2 separate regions of the Homo sapiens genome follow, and region 1 is linked to region 2. Evidence: fine-mapped expression QTL. A gene starts in region 2. The other region holds a variant in brackets. All regions are shown on one strand. Distances are between the middles of the regions. Region 1 overlaps GNA15 (G protein subunit alpha 15). Region 2 holds the start of GNA15 (G protein subunit alpha 15).

Region 1 (5,375 bases), 27 kb before region 2:
ACAAAACAACAACAAGAGGCAGAGCGCGGTGGCTCACACCTGTAATCCCAGCACTTCGGGAGGCCGAGGCGGGCGGATCACAAGGTCAGGAGATTGAGACCATCCTGGCTAACACGGTGAAAGCCCGTCTCTACTAAAAATACAAAAAATTAGCCAGGCGTGGTGGCGGGCGCCTGTAATCCCAGCTACTCGGGAGGCTGAGGCAGGAGAATGGTGTGAACCTGGGAGGCGGAGCTTGCAGTGAGCCGAGATCACACCACTGCACTTCCAGCCTGGGTGACAGAGTGAGACTCCGTCTCAAAAAAAAAACAGAAAGATAGGATGTGGTGAGAAGGGCTGTCACCACTGAGGTCTTCCTCCCTGAAACCCATCACCCCAGTCTGACCAGCAGCAAAATGTCAGACCAAACTCAGTGGAGAGGGTTTCTATAACATACTTTTATATTTATTTATTTATTTATGTATTTATTTATTTATTATTTGAGACAAGGTCTCACTCTGTCGCTCAGGCTAGAGTGCAGTGGCAGGATCTTGGCTCACCGCAACCTCCGCCTCCCGGGTTCAAGCAACTCTCATGCTTCAGCCTCCCAATTAGCTGGGATTGCAAGCATGCACCACCACGCCCGGCTCCTTTTTGTATTACAAAATACCTTTTATAGGTTCAAATGTGGCTCCCCTACAAAGATATGATGAAGTCATAACCCCCGGTATCTGTGAATGGGACCTTATTTAGAAATACGGTCTTTGCCGATGTAATCAAGTTAAGATGGGGATGACAGGCTGGACCCTGATCCAGTGTGACTAGTGTTTTTATAAGAAGAAAAATTAGGCCAGGTGTGGTGGCTCATGCCTGTAATCCCAGCACTTTGGGAGGTCGAGGGAGGCGGATCACTTGAGGTCAGGAGTTTGAGACCAGTTTGGCCAACATGGTGAAACCCTGTCTCTACTAAAAATACAAAAATATGGCCAGGTGTGATGGCACACAACTGTAGTCCAAGCTACTCAGGAGGCTGAGGCAGGAGAATCACTTGAACCTGGGAGGTGGAGGTTGCAGTGAGACGAGATTGCGCCACTGCACTCCAGCCTGGGCCACAGAGCGGGACTCCATCAAAAAAAAAAAAAGTAGCCAGGTGTGGTGGCGGGTGCCTGTAATCTCAGCTACTGCAGAGGCTGAGGCATGAGAATCACTTGAACCCAGGAGGCAGAGGCTGCAGTGAACCGAGATCGCACCACTGCACTCCAGCCTGGGCAACCAAGTGAGATTGTCTCAAAAAACAAACAAATAAAAAACCACAAATGTGTTCAACGTAGGAACAGGCTCCTGCCTCTGTCAATTCCAGGTGTGTGAGCTTAGTCAAATTACTCCACTTCTCTGCGCCCCGGTTTCCTCACCTGTAAAGTGGGGTGCTACGGCTTGCACCCCAGAACACTGCCCTGAGGATAGTAAGAGGCCTTCTCAAAGCTGGGTGGGGGCTGCTACTGGAATTTCAGGTCAGTAGCCACGGAGGAGTCTGCTTCAATGTCCCCCCCAGCCTGGGAGGGAGGTTGGACTCCACGTCCCGGCTTGCGGGACTCACAGCCTCCACAGTTCTGGGTACCATGGCCAGGACAGGTGGGTAGACAAGAAGTATAACTTTTTTCCTTCCTACTCCACGTTGCTCCCCGCACTGTAAGCACTGCCCCCGGGACACGTAAGCCGAGAAAGGAATGCAGAGGGGATAAACAGGACGCTGGCGACGCAGCCTCTAAGAAATCTTTAATTTCAGCCCGCACGGAGCCCTGCAGAAGGTGAGGGAATAAATACAAAAGGTTAAGATGCAGCATGCCCAGCCCCCAGCCTGCAAGGGATGGGGGGATGCTTGTGGGCCGCGATTTCTCTCGTCCGCAAACCGGGGCAGGACACGCTGTGAGCCACCGAGCTCTGAAAGTGACAGTGTTTTCCAGCGGTCTGTTACCCCTTGCAAAGGGAAGTCCCTGCACCCCTAGTCCACAGGTTCCTGGAAGGCGTTCCTTCTCCTGTCCACTA[G/T]AGTGCGCCAGAGTCCACGCCCGAAGGCGCCTGAAGGCTCTACTAGCCCCATCCCAGGGTGTGCGTCACCCACAGAGGGTCCCAGAACCCTGCCCAGGAGGTGACACGCCCGGAGATGGGGCTCCTGAGAGATGCCCACCCACCCAAGTCCTCAATCCCCTGATTTCTTCACCTTTTCATCCACCCTGGCATCCCAAATGGCCGTTTTGCTCCTTCCCTTTCAAAGGAGGGAAACTGAGTCAAGCAAGGGCAGGAGTACCCTGGGGGGCGGCTGTCCTGGTGAGAGGCAGAGAAGAGAGCGGCCAGCAGCGGGCCGTCCGTCCCCCGACTCCCTTGCGTGTGGGCCGAGGCTGGAGAGATAGACCAGGGACACTAGGGGTCCCTGCAGCCACTCCCACCTCCCACCCGCCCGCCGGTGCCGCCTGCCCCAGGTGGGGCCTGGGTCACAGCAGGTTGATCTCGTCCAGGTAGCGGGCGAGCACCGAGTCCCGCACGTCCTTGAAGACCTTGCGGATGTTCTGTGTGTCTGTGGCACATGTGTAGTGGCTGAAGAGGCGTCGGGATCGTGCGCCCTTCTTGCTGCCCTCGGGGCCGTCCACGCACCCGGTGTACATCCTCGTGTACATGTCCAGGATGAACCTCTTGGCTGCCTCAGCATCCTGCTTAGGGCCTGGGGAAACAGTGTGGGAAGGGGGTGAGGACCCTCCCTCTTTGGACCCAGGGGGCCTCTGGAGACCCTCTTCCCTGTAACCAGCACTGAAGGGACCCAGGGATCGCGCCTGTCATTTTTCTGTGCGTTGACTCCATCTTTTGTAGTCATAGCTGGTCACACGACTCCGGCCCAGCCAATGGGAACACAGGAGATTGTCTCACACGAGTCATGTGACCTGAAATGGACCAATGAGACCCAGCTCTGGGACTTCGGGCAGAACTGTGTTAAAGAGAGACACTCTCTTGGCCTCGCTTACAGCCAGTGCAGTTGGAAGACTGGAATCGCATAGACAAATATCCCAGGACTGTGAAGATGGCGGCATCAAGGCCAAACGAGGGGAAGAGAGTCCTCTTTTTTTTTTTCTTGAGATGGGGCCTCGCTCTGTCGCCCAGGCTGGAGTGCAATGGTGCAATCTTGGCAGTAGCTGGGATTACAGGCGCCTGCCACCATGCCCAGGTAATTTTTGTATTTTTAGTAGAGATGGGGTTTTGCCATGTTGGCCAGGCTGGTCTCGAACTCCTGACCTCAAATGATCAGCCCGCCTTGACCCCCCCAAAGCGCTGGGATTACAGGCGTGAGCCACTGTGCCCAGCCCTGCATAGGGTTTTAACATGAAGATTAAAGAAGCTTTGTAGAGTGCTTCCACCAGTGCGGTAGATGTGTTAGCTGCTGTTATCAATTTTATTATTATTATCATTATTATTATTATTATTATTTTGAGACAGAGTCTCACTCTGTCACCCAGGTTGGAGTGAAGTGGCATGATCTCAGCTCACTGCAACCTCCACCTCCTGGGTTCAAGCGATTCTCCTGCCTCAGCCTCCCGAGTAACTGGGATGACAGGCCCCCGCCACCACACCCAGCTAATTTTTGTATTTTTAACAGAGATGGGGCTTTGCCATGTTGGCCAGGCTGGTCTCAAACTCCTGACCTAAAGCGATCTGCGCGCCTCAGCCTCCCAAAGTGTGGTTTCTTATTATTATCACAAATATTATTTAGCACAGTGGAGGGTAGGGCTGGGAGTCAGCAAAGAGTGCACCAGTCACTTGTGCTGGGAGACAAGGATGAGTCATGGGTGGTTCCCTTTGACCTGAATGAAAAAAATATCTACCTTATCCTGTTCCCAAATTCTCTAAACTATGAGCTGATTCCCAGGGCTGCTTGGCAAGGAAGAGGGGCTATCCAGGCCACCATCCTGGAACAACTTGACGTCTATCTCCCAGACCCTGAATCTTGTGGGTATAATTGGCTAAAATTGGCCTCATGGGCTCTGAGACATGACAAGACCAGGGATCAAAACCTGGTGACTTCACCAAAGTTTATGTTTACTGATTGTGGACCTGGTGTCAAGCATGTACTAAGGACTCATCTACTATGGTTGCTTGTATATTGAGGTGAACAGTGTCCCCCAAAATTCATGTCCACCTGGAACTTCAGAATATGACTTTTAGAAATCGGATATTTGCAGATGTAATTAGTTAAGTTAAATTAGGTCATGGCCAGGCATGAGGGCTCACGCCTGTAATCCTAGCACTTTGGAAGGCCAAGGCAGGTGGATGACAGATGTGTGGTTGGGCCCAGGAGTTCCAGATCAGCCTGGGCAACATGGCGAAACCCTGTCTCTACAGAAATATACAAAAATTACCCAGGTGTGGTGGTGTGCGCCTGTAGTCCCAGCAACTCAAGAGGCTGAGGTGGGAGGATCACCTGTGCCCAGGAGGTTGAGGCTGCAGTGAACTGTGATCACACCACTGGACTCTAGCCTGGGCAACAGAGCAAGACCTTGTCTCAAAAAAAAAAAAAAAAAAAAAAAGTGGTCATACCAAAGTATGGGCCCTAAATCCAATGACTGGTGGCCTTATAACAACAGGAGAGGACACATAAAGGCATGGTGAGAAGACAGCCATGTGAACATGGAGGCAGAGATTGCAGTGATATGTCTACAAGCTAAGGATTGTAGGCCACCACCAGAAGCTGAGAGAGAAGCATGGAATGGATTTTCCCTTAGAGCCTCCAAAAGGAACCAACCTTGCCAATACCTTAACTTTGGACTTCTGTTGTTTCCTGTTGTTTTAAGCCACCCAGTTTGTGGTACTTTGTTACGGCATCCCCAGGACATGAAGGCAAGTTATCTCCAAGATGGCTGCCGTCACTTCCTTCCCTCCCTGTATGCATGTGTCATGCTGCCTTCAAGAGATGGAGTCTCTTTCTTTTGAATCCGGGCTGATATGAGTGATGTGCTTGACAAATAGAATGTGGCAGAGTAACGTCTGACATTTCTGAGGCTATCATGAGAAGCAGCTTCCACCTGGGCTGAAGTCTGTCTACCCTGAGGCAGCCATATTGTGAGTAAGCTCAAACCATGTGAAGAGGCTGTGGATCATGAGGCCCCAGATGGAGACAGAGAGAACAGGGGAGGTGGAAAAGGAGAGACAGACTAGGAGAAAGGGGAGGAGAGAGAGATGAGATGGGAGAGGGAGGCAGGGAGAGACACAGAGAGAGAGGCCAAGAGTGCCAAGAGCACCAAGGCACCAGACATATGGGGGAAGAAGCCATCTTGGAAGTTTATCTCCAATCCCATAGAGCCCAGCTGATGTCACATGGATCAGAGATGAACTTACCCAGCTCAACCTTTCCC
Region 2 (5,375 bases):
CCAGCCTGGGTGACAGAGCAAGACTCCGTCTCAAAAAAATAAAAATAAAAATAAGAAAAGAAAAAAGAAAGAAAGGGCCCCCAGTGAAGGTGCAGTTCCTGGGGGTCCCCACCATCCCACTCGATGTTCTCTCTCTTTCCTCTCGGGCGGCCTCTTCCCACTGAACGAGGAAAGGACGATAGCAACCATCACGGGATGATCAAGCTCTTTGCCCGGGGCAGACAAACGCGAGTCCAGAAGACTTGAGACCTTCTCCAGCCCCCAACCCAGAGCTCGGGGATCCCAGAAGACCCTCCCAGGCTAGCATCCCGGGCTTAGGCCAACGGGGCCATAATCAGGGAAAGGTAATTGGGGAAACAAGCTACGGGAATGAGAAGACCCCGAGGTTTCAGAGATCAGAATTTTTTTTTTTTTGAGACGGAGTTTTGTTCTTGTTGCCCAGGCTGGGGTGCAATAGTGCAATCCTGGCTCACTGCAGCCTCCACCTCCTGGTTTCAAGCGATTCTCCTGCCTCAGCCTCCCCAGTAGCTGGGATTACAGGCACATGCCACCACACCCGGCTAATTTTTTTGTATTTTGAGTAGAGACGGGGTTTCGCCACGTTGACCAGGCTGATTTCGAACTCCTGGCCTCAAGTGATCTGCCCGCCTTGGCGTCCCAAAGTGCTGGGATTACAGGCATGATTTATTTATTTATTTTATTTATATTTATTTATTTATTGACAATGAGTCTTGCTCTGTCATCCAGGCTGGAGTGCAGTGGCCCGATCTCAGCTCACTGCAACCTCTGCCTCCTGGGTTCAAGCGATTCTCATGCCTCAGCCTCCCGAGTAGCTGGGATTATAGCTGTGTGCCACCATGCCCAGCTAATTTTTGGTTTTGTTTGTTTGTTTATTTGTTTGAGATGGCGTCTCACTCTGTCGCCAGTCTGGAGTGCAGTGGCATGATCTCAGCTCACTGCAGTCTCCACCTCCTGGTTTCATGCAATTCCCCTGCCTCAGCCTCCCGAGTAGCAGGGACTACAGGCACGCACCACCACATCTGGCTAATTTTTGGTATTTTGGTAGAGATGGGGTTTCACCGTGTTGGTCAGGCTGGTCTCGATCTCCCGACCTTGTGATCCACCCACCTCGGCCTCCCAAAGTGCTGGGATTACAGGCATGAGCCACCATGCCTGGCAAATTTTTGGTATTTTAGTAGAGACGGGGCTTCACCATGTTGGCCTGGCTGTGTCTTGAACTCCTGACCTCAAGTGATCCCACCCGCCTGGGCCTCCCAAAGTGCTGAAATCACAGGCTTGAGCCACTGCACCCAGCCAGAGTTCAGAATCTTGAACCGTTACTGACGTCGACTCCCCCATCTGAAGCCTCCGCATGGAAGCCATCACCCTGTTTTGTTTTCTCCTAGATAATTCTTGTTGCCAGAATTATTTTATCTGCTTATGAGTTTACAGACTAAATGTCTTGGCTCCTTCACAGGAAATGAGATCCAGGAAGACAGAAATATCTTCCCCTGTTTGGCTGCCTCGTTCCTGGGAGCTACCCAATAAATCTTAAATGAATGAATAATGAATGAATGAACCAATGAACCAATCAATCCATCCTTTCTAGCCCCCAAAGGAGCCCTAGACAAGCCCTCTCCAGCCATGGCAGGGAGGTAAAGGCGAGAGGGAGCGTCCTGGTGAAGGAGAGGCTGGAGCCGGCCCCTCCCTTACGGGTGGGCTGGCCAGAACGGGTTGCACACCTGAGCTCATCATTCCCTCGCCATGACACAGACAGGTAGGGCGTGCTGGGCCTGCCCGGCAGGGGCCCGGTAGAGCCACGTCTGCTATTGTATATGCCCCACACAGTGGACAGGCCTGGGCACCTGGCCGCTGGTCGCACGTTGGACAAGGAACTTGGCTTCTCTGAACCTCAGTCTTTCTCATCTGGAAAATGGGTTCCAGGCTCCCCATTCCCTGGGAGGAGGCGACGGCTCCACGATGCCAATGTCTGACCTAGCCTGATCCGCCTCCTTGCCCCGACACCCCTGCCGGCTGGCCACCGCCCACTGCCCACCACCCACCGCCCACCGACCCTGGACTCACCCAAAAGCAGCAGCTTCAGCTCCCCGCGGTCCTGCTTCTTCTGCTCCAAGAGGATCCTGTTGATCTCCTGGTCCACCCGGGCGGCGGCCTTCTCATCCTCCGTCAGGCACCAGGGGCAGCAGCGCCAGGTCAGCGAGCGGGCCATGGTGCGGTGGCCTCAGTCGGCACCGGGTGGCATCGCCCCCGGGCCCCTGCTGGCCAGGGCAACCCCCAGCCCAGCCGGCCCTGGAGAGGGCTCCGGGCAACCGGGTGCGCAGGGAGGCTGCCTTTTCCTTGGGGGTCACCCCCCAGGGACCTAGACTTCCTTGCCTGAAACACCCAGGAAGCCCGGCTCGGCGGTGGCAAGGCTTGAGTGCTGGGAACAGGGTGGGGACGGGAGGAGGTGGGGAGGCCAGGGCTCCCCGCCCACCTCCAGACCTGCTCAGACCCGGCCCGACAGGTTGACGGTGAAGGGTGCCAGGAGAGGGTGAGGTGGGGGCCCCAGGGAGGGCGGGGCGGTGGCGGGAAAACCCCCACCGCAGACTGGGTCCTGTGTGACCAGCAGGGCCCTTCTTCCTCCTTCTGGAGAAGGGGCGGATTCTCCTCAGGCTTCACCCGGAGCTGTCCCCCTCCTCGGAGCCAATCAGGAACCGTCAGACCCGTGCTACTGCTGATACATTATATATATATCATATATATATGTGTGTGTATATATATATATGTGTATATATATATATATATATATATATATATATATATATATATATATATATTTTTTTTTTTTTTTTTGAGACAGAGTTTCACTCTTATTGCCCAGGCTGGAGTGCAGTGGCAGGATCTTGACTCTGCAACATCTGCCTCCCAGGTTCAAGCAATTCTCCTGCCTCAGCCTCTCGAGTAGCTGGGATTACAGGCATCCACCACCACGCCGGGCTAACTTTGGATTTTTAGTAGAGAAAGGGTTCCACCACGTTGGCCAGGCTGGTCTCAAACTCCTGACCTCAGGTGATCCACCCGCCTCGGCCTCCCAAAGTGCTGGGATTGCAGGCATAAACCACCACGCTCGGCCCTTCTGATATATTTTTAAGAAACAGCTCAGGCCAGGTGTCATGGACTGTTTCCAGCGACTCTGCCCTGACCTCAGGTGATCCACCCTGCAGAGGTGGGCAGCTTGCCTGAGGTCAGGAGTTCGAAACCAGCCTGGCCAACATGGCGAAACCCTGTCTCTACTAAAGATACAAAAATTAGCCGGGTTTTGGCTCACATTAGCTGGTTTTACACTCACATCACCCTGTATAGTTACTACTGTCATCCCTGTTTGACTGATGAGGAGGTTGAGGCATAGAGCAGGGGAGTGACCGGTGGGGCTGGCACAAGGCAGAGCCGGGAGCCTATCCCTCACCTGCGGGGCCCCAGAGTCTAGACGCCTACCAGGCAGATTCCAGGCAGGGCCATCCCTTCATTGTGCGTGCATTCATGGAGCGCCAACTGTGTGCCAGGCACGGTAGCCAAGAGACACAGATCCCAGACCTCCTTACCTAAGGTTCTAGTTAAAGAACAGATAATAAAATAAATTTTAGGCTGGGCCTGGTGGCTCACGCATGTAATCCCTATACTTTGGGAGGCCAAGGCGGGCAGATCACAAAGTCAAGAAATCGAGACCAGCCTGGCCAACACGGCGAAACCCCGTCTCTACTAAAAATACAAAAATTAGCCGGGCGTGGTGGTGCACGCCTGTAGTCCCACCTACTTGGGAGGCTGAGGCAAGAGAATCGCTTGAACCCGGGAGGCAGAGGTGGCAGTGAGCTGAGATCGTGCCACTGCACTCCAGCCTGGCGACGAAGTGAGACTCCATCTCAAAAAAAATAAAAAATAAAAGAATAAAAAATTTGGCCAGGTGAGTGCGGGAGCTCACATCTGTAATCAAAGTACTTTGGGAGGCCGAGGCAGGAGGATCACTTGAAGTCAGGAGTTTGAGACCAGCCTGGCCAACATGGAGAAACTCCATCTCTACTAATACAAAAATTAGTTGGGCATGTTGGCACGCACCAGTAGTCCCAGCTACTTGGGAGGCTGAGGCAAGGGAATCACTTGAACCCCGAAGATGGAGGCTGCAGTGAGCCGAGATCATAACACTGCTCTCCAGCCTGGGCAACATAGTGAAACCCTGTCTCCAGAAACAAACAAAACAAAACTCTCCCTCTCTCTCTATGTATATATATACACACACACACATACATATATATACACATACATATATATACACAATATATAGACACACATACATATATGTATATACACATACATATATACACATACATATATATACACAATATATAGACACACATACATATATACACATACATATATACACACATAAAAGTATACATTTTAATATACATATATGTATATTATACATAAAAATATATATGTGTGTATATATATACACACACGTGTAAAATATATATATTTTTTAATACACCTGAGCCCGTTGGATGGTGAAAAATTCTGCCAGAAAAATTAAGCAGAGATGTTGTTGGGGAAGGTTCAAGGTCATTGCTCTAAATGGATCAACAAAGGTCGCACAGACAAGTGATATTCAGGATCAGAAGTCAGACAGGCAGATCGGGTGTAAGAGGGACTTTGGGAGTGGACCTCACTGGTCAAGGAGATCTTCCCAATGAGTGCCATGAGGCCGCCCTGACCTGATCCCTCTGGGACTTCAGGGCCCTAGGGGTGGGCTGGTGGCTGGCAGCTTGGTAGAAACGTTGCTGCTTCCTAGGTACTCAGAGCCAGAGTGTTTGGGTGAAGATTCCCCACCCCCATTGACAGGCTGTAGAAAATTCTAGAAAGTTCTGGATCAAAACTCTCCTCCCCAAGAGATACACGTAATTCTTGTACTTCGGGGGCCTCTGGTCCCTTTACAGATAGGGCAAGGCACAGAGAGGGCGAATTACGTGCCCAGGGCCACACAGCCATTGGCAGCCACCGTCCCCACCTCCTCCCAGACACCAGGGCTCGGTGACAGCCGTTGACGCAGCTTCACCAGCTCAGCACAAACGTGTGGTTTTCTCCACTGTTGATTCATAACGAATGACAGATGGGAAGTACGATAGGGGCCCCCATCTGGTCACTGGGGCTGGCAGGTGCCATCTGCCCACCCAGCCACCCACCTTCCCGCCCCCAACCGGATAGCAGCAACGAGGGGCAGTCCCACCCAGGACAGGCAAAGAAACGCAGAAATAGGTCATGGCCGTGCAGATCTTCCAGGATGGTTGAAACAGAAATGACCAGCAAAACTGGGAGACGAG

Evidence for each region.
Region 1: its variant is fine-mapped to the expression of GNA15 in whole blood (TOPMed, PIP above 0.99).

The regions. Positions count from the first base shown.
Region 1 is chr19:3,160,113-3,165,487 of GRCh38, reverse strand. GNA15 (G protein subunit alpha 15) reads right to left here. Exons shown (of 7, transcript NM_002068.4): 7 at 1,739-2,695. The coding sequence ends at 2,469. Among named protein-coding and RNA genes, the nearest start is that of GNA15-DT, 7.6 kb to the right of the region's middle. RefSeq lists enhancers at 1,217-2,077, 2,078-2,939, 2,743-3,037. The variant G/T (reference allele first, on the strand shown) is at 2,026.
Region 2 is chr19:3,133,306-3,138,680 of GRCh38, reverse strand. It overlaps GNA15 (G protein subunit alpha 15), which reads right to left and starts at 2,648. Exons shown (of 7, transcript NM_002068.4): 1 at 2,086-2,648. The coding sequence starts at 2,230.